2 separate regions of the Homo sapiens genome follow, and region 1 is linked to region 2. Evidence: fine-mapped expression QTL. A gene starts in region 2. The other region holds a variant in brackets. All regions are shown on one strand. Distances are from middle to middle.

Evidence for each region. PIP is the estimated chance that this variant, and not a neighbour inherited with it, causes the effect.
Region 1: its variant is the best candidate, but not a certain one, in a credible set for the expression of GNL3L in whole blood (TOPMed, PIP 0.81).

The regions. Positions count from the first base shown.
Region 1 is chrX:54,430,751-54,433,656 of GRCh38, reverse strand. No RefSeq gene overlaps it. Among named protein-coding and RNA genes, the nearest start is that of TSR2, 8.2 kb to the left of the region's middle. The variant C/T (reference allele first, on the strand shown) is at 1,262.
Region 2 is chrX:54,528,757-54,531,662 of GRCh38, reverse strand. GNL3L (G protein nucleolar 3 like) reads right to left here and starts at 1,444. Exons shown (of 16, transcript NM_001184819.2): 1 at 1,244-1,444. RefSeq lists enhancers at 1,039-1,298, 1,309-1,368, 1,819-1,868, 1,523-2,043.

The DNA of each region.
Region 1 (2,906 bases), 98 kb after region 2:
ATGTCAGAGAAAATATCAGGCTCCCATATCAAATCCTCTCCCAACTGAAACACTAGAATTAGTGTCTCAAGAGTGAACCATCTGGGCAGATTCCTTGAGTCCAGGAGTTTGAGACCAGCCTGGGCAACATGGCAAAACCCTGTCTCTGAAAAAAATACAAAAATTAGCAGGACTTGGTGGGACATGCCTGCGGTCTCCAAGCTACCCTGGAGGCTGAGGTTGGAGGATCAGCTTGGGCCCAGGAGGCGGGGGTTGCAATGAGCAGAGATGGCAGCAGTGCACTCCAGCATGGGTGACAGAGCCAGATCCCTGTCTCAAAAAAAAAAAAGAGTGAACCATCAACATGTAAACCCTTAACCTTAAAGTCATGTCCCCATAATGCCCATAATGAGCCTCTAGGTAGAGCCACGGGACTGAGTCCCCAAACTTAGCTCCTTGAAGGAGTATGGGGACTGGGACTGATATCCTGCAAATGGGCCCAGGGTGAGTTCCCAGAAGGACCCATCACATACTAAAGCCACAAACTCATCCCCCCTGCTGAAAGTGTAGACTGAGCCCATGTTCTGAAACAGCTTCCCTCAGACTGAAAACCTAATATCTGAACCTGGAAATAACATGCCCAAGGCCGGGCATGGTGGCTCACGCCTGTAATTGGAGCACTTTGCGAGGCTGAGGCGGGCAGATCACTTGAGGTCAGGAGTTCGAGACCAGCCTGGCCAACATGGTGAAACCCCATCTCTACTAAAAATACAAAATTTAGCCAGGCATGGTGGTGGGCACCTGTAGTCCCAGCTACTTGGGAGGCTGAGGCAGGAGAATTGCTTGAACCCGGGAGTCAGAGGTTGCAGTGAGTTGAGGTCGCGCCACTGCACTCCAGCCTGGGCGACACAGCGAGACTCTGTCTTAAAAAAAAAAAAAAAAGTGAAAAAATTAGCTGAACGTGGTGGCACTTGCCTGTAGTCCCAGCTACCCGGGAGGCTGAGGCAGGAGAATCACTTGAACCTGGGAGGCAGAGGTTGCAGTGAGCCGAGATTGTGCCACTGCACTCCAGCCTGGGTGACAGAGCGAGACTCCATCTCAAAAAAAAAAAAGCCCAAAATGAGCCCTAGAGGGAATCCCCAGAGGGAACCACCGGTATGCACCTATGGTAGCCATGAGACTTCATCTCACAGACCGTAAGCTACAGGGGATGAATTTAATCAAGGGCCCCAGCTGCTGTTCTGAAATCCACCCTTGTATTTGCGCAGACATTGCTTGCCAT[C/T]AGCTGAGTGCCAAAAACTACCAATAACTGAGTGCAGCAGGGATACTTTGGCAAATTTGGCTCAAAGAATCCTGGATAATTGCTTGAGCCCAAGAGTTCAAAACCAGCCTGGGCAACATGGTGGGACCCTGTCTATAGAAAATCAAAAAATTAGCTGGGTATGGTGTGCACTCCTATAGTCCCAGCTACACTTGGGAGGCTGAGGTGGGAGGAGTGCTTGAGTCAGGGAGTTCGAGGCTGCAGTGAGTCGTGATCTTGCCACTGCACTCCAGCCTGGGCAACAGAGTGAGACCCTATCTGAAAAAAAAAAATTTAATGGAAGAAAGGAGCAGTTTCTTAGGACTGCTTTTTTTTTTTTTTTTTTTTTTTTTGAGACAGAGTCTCACTCTGTTGCCAGGCTGGAGTGCAGTGGCATAATCCGGGCTCACTGCAACCTCCACCTCCCGGATTCAAGTGGTTCTCCTGCCTCAGCCTACTAAGTAGCTGAGATTACAGGCACGTGCCACCTCACCCGGCAAATTTTTGTATTTTTAGTAGAGACAGGGTTTCACCATATTGGCCAGGATGGTCTCGATCTCTTGACCTTGTGATGCACCCTGCCTTGGCCTCCCAAAGTGCTGGGATTACAGGGTGTGAGCCACCGTGCCCGGTCAGGACTGCTTTTACATAAGAGAAATAAAAGGTTTGAGCCGGATTCGATGGCTCACACCTGTAATCCCAGCACTTTGGGAGGCCAAGGTGGGAGGATCACTTGAGCCCAGGAGTTTGAGACCAGCCTGGGCAACAGGGAGACCCTGTCTCTACCAAAAAAAAAAAAATTAAAAAAATAAGCAGATATGACTAATTTACCGGCATGGCACATGCTTGTAGTCCCAGCTACTCTGGAGGCTGAGGTGGGAGGATTGCTTGAGCCCGGGAGGTCTAGGCTGCAGTGAGCAATGATCAAAACAGAGTGAAACTCTGTGTCAAAAAAAGAAAAATAGAGGTTTCTATCTTGTTTAAGCCATCATTATTTGGTGTCTCTTTGTTACATGCAATCACATCTGATGCCAGCTGAGCCCTCTTGAGTGAGCCAATGCCTGAGCTCACTCAGAACTCACTCGGAACTCCCGGACTTCTCTCAGGAGAGTGAATGCCACTGGGTGCGGTGGCTCACGCCTGTAATCCCAGCACCTTGGGAGGCCGAGGCGTGTGGATCATTTGAGGTCAGAAGTTCAAGACCAGCCTGGCCAGCATGGTGAAACCCCGTCTCTACTAAAAATACAAAAAATTAGCCAGGCGTGGTAGTGTGCGCCTATAATCCCAGCTACTTGAGAGGCTGAGGCAGGAGAATCACTTGAACCTGGGAGGCGGGGGTTGCAGTGAGCCAAGATCATTCCACTGCACTCCAGCCTGGGCGACAGAGCAAGACTCCATCTCAAAACAAAACAAACCAAAACAAACAAAAAGTCTGAATGCCCATGCTGAGCACCCAACAGTGAGTGATCCAGACAGAGCTCCTGACTGACTAATACAATGAGATTGATCTCAGGTATACCAGTGCCTGAACCTCTGGACAGACTACCATAAAGCAGGTGGCCCAAACAGTTTCTAGACCAAACCCCTAAAATGATTTCCCCAGAGGCCCCTGAAGAAGCTCCCCAAG
Region 2 (2,906 bases):
CTGCACCTTACCTGCAGTGAGCTATTCTGGACCCTTCTATGGAAGGTGGACTGTGACAACTTTCATCTTTTATGCTGGTTGAAGTCAGCGGCACACTAACACTGAAAGAAATAGGGGCTCTGGTTCTCTGCATGGGTGGTGTGTGGAGGGGGCTGGCAATGCAGCTATAAATTAATAGATCAGCCCTAATACTTGGGGGTGGGGGCGTCTGTGATTCTACCCTGGGTGGAGAGAAACAGATCTGAGCTCCACTACCTTGGGTAAAGGGGAGAGACCATACGCACTGAACTGCCAGGTAATCAGCGATGTCACTCCCTCTCAACATTACAGGGAGGGAGACCTGCATATCTGCTCCTGTGGGGTATCTCCCTTGCTACATTTAGTGATTCTAAATCTTTGGGGGAGGTAGGGGGAGGTAGGGGGATGATCTGTGTCTACCTCAAAGGGAGAGGAACACATCTGAGCCCCTCTACCCCCACGGCCCCTCAAGGGGCAGACCTGACTGTCTCTTCATGGATTAAGGTCTGTTCCTGTTTGCTTCGAAGCATGTTGGGTGCTTCGAAAAATTACACATTCGGTAAAACGGGGGCTACGGAAGTAGGGATCAGGTCTGATTCTCCACAATGGGGACTCACTCTAACCTAAGAGGAGGGGGCAATTGGCTTAGTTGTCCATAAGCTGAGGCCTGTAACTGCAACCACTTTGGGGACGGGTGAGTTGGGGAGCGATACTGAGGGCTCTGAGTCTACGCGTATGGGGAGGAGGTGCCCTCCCTCTGTATATTAAATGTTTCTAAGCTCCTCTATGCTGGTATGGGGGCAGATACATCAAAGCCTCTGTCTGTCCTGAGGAGGTGCCTCGAGACGGCTGTCTAGAGCCAAGCCAAGGAAGTGCCTTAAGTCGGGAGAAGTCTGCGCTGCTCAGCTGGGTGGAGGGAGATGTCTCTACACGGTTGGGGTGGATGTCCCCCATGCCTTTGGTGGGTCGACTCCTGTCTATACAAGGTGAATGCAGAATGAAGCCTCACTATCTTGAGGACGATCAACGCTTCACCACACAAGTGAAGTTTGTGCCTCTCTACACAGTGTGTCCCGGGTCTACACCTTTCTAGGTGGGATGGGGCAATGCCCCTCTCCCGGCAAACTCCACTCCGCGAAAAGGCAATTCGGCGCGTCTCCACGTGTGCCGCGATCCCTGCCCCTCTTCCGGTCCCTTCTACCCTGGAAGGGATCCTGCTGTTTACCTCTCTATTCCAGGTTGGCGGGCATCTCTGGTTTCACATCCAATAGACGATCCTAACTGCCCGGCCGTCTAGGTGAGCGCACATTGTGAGAAAAGAGGAGAGAAGTTTCTTACTTACACTTCCGGCGGGGATCTGAGAAGCGAGGGCAACACGACAACTCGGTTGAGCGAGCAGAAACTCTCGCGCAGCTAGGCTCCGACTTCCGGATCCCAGGCCGGCGGCGCCCGACTCCGCCCACCGTGCGGTCTCCGCGGGGGGGGGGGGGGGGGGGCGGAGCTTCTGACTGACAGCTCACGCCCGCCCGTCCCTTCTTCGCGACCACGCTGGCCCCGCCTCCTGCCTGCCCCGTAGTTAAGGAAATAGCGGAGGAGGGAGAAGGAGGACGGGGAAATGACCGGGAAGAAGCGGCGGGTCGACTGGTGCGGCCATATACCTTACTTGCAAGCCAAAATTTTGTCTGCGGGCATCTGTCTGGGGTTAAATATGCGTGCTCCCAAATCTCAATAACCAGGCAGTCACCACGCCCGAATCAGACAAGGGTGGGGGATGGTGTCTTTGTCTGCCTGGAAGATGGCGACAGCAGGGTGTGAGAAAATGGCCGCCTGGGTCACGTGTCTGGCCGAGTATTTCCCCACCTGAAGTGAATTGGTTAGCTATTCCCAACCACCTTCCCGGGTCCTTGAGCCCCAGACCATCCCTGAGCACTCCTAGCTTTTTCTGCATACGTTCAGATCTATGGCCATACCCAACCCGAGCTGGAGCAGGAGCCAGAACGACTAGAAGCCTCTCCCACACTAGAAGCCTCTCCCACCCTTTTGCCTTCTTCCCCTCCTACTCCATCCTTCCCTCAATCCCGGAGCAGCGTCTGCAGAAGGGAATGAATTTATATCTCTGGAGTGGGGCAAGTAGGGGTTTCTGAAGCCATCTCAAGGAGCTGGCTGGGAAGTGAGGTCTCCCCCACAAAATAGTAAATATTAGTCTGCAAATGTTTTCTTCTTGATGGTTTAATTCCAGCCCCTCCTCTTCCTCAAGCCTAAACCCTGGGGTGGGGCACAGAGTAGGTGGAACTCTGTGCCTCCGAGGGTGGGTTTGTTTCTCCACTTCAAGCACAGACGGGCTGAAAATGACTCCATCTGTCCCTTTATCCCTTACATAAACAGGACTCACTACCTCTCTACATCGTTGGAGGGCTTCTAACCTCTCATCCTAGAGACACATGAAATTCCTCTGGACCTGAAACCAGCCCTGACCACTTTCACCTTTCCCCCTGCATTTGCAATTTTGCTCTGTTTCTCTAAGACCTAACTCTTGTCACTTCGATGAAACCTTCTCTGACTTTCGCAGATGAGTTAGAAACCCAGAGCACCTTACCTATACAGCTAAGCTAGCACTTATCACAATACTGTAGTTGTTTATGTGACTGTGTCTCCACAGGAGGGTGAACTCCCTGAGAGCAGGGGCCATGTATCTTCAAGCTTTCAACAACACCCAGCACAAGACTGGTATGAGGCAGGCTTCAACAACTGTTTGTTAAATGGGTGAGTTTACAGGCCTGCACCACAAAAAATGGGAAATGGGCTGTTTAGTAGATGGCATTGGGAAATTTGGCTCTCCATGAAAAGAAATATAAAACTGGATCTCTATTTATTCCACCTAAGAGGGT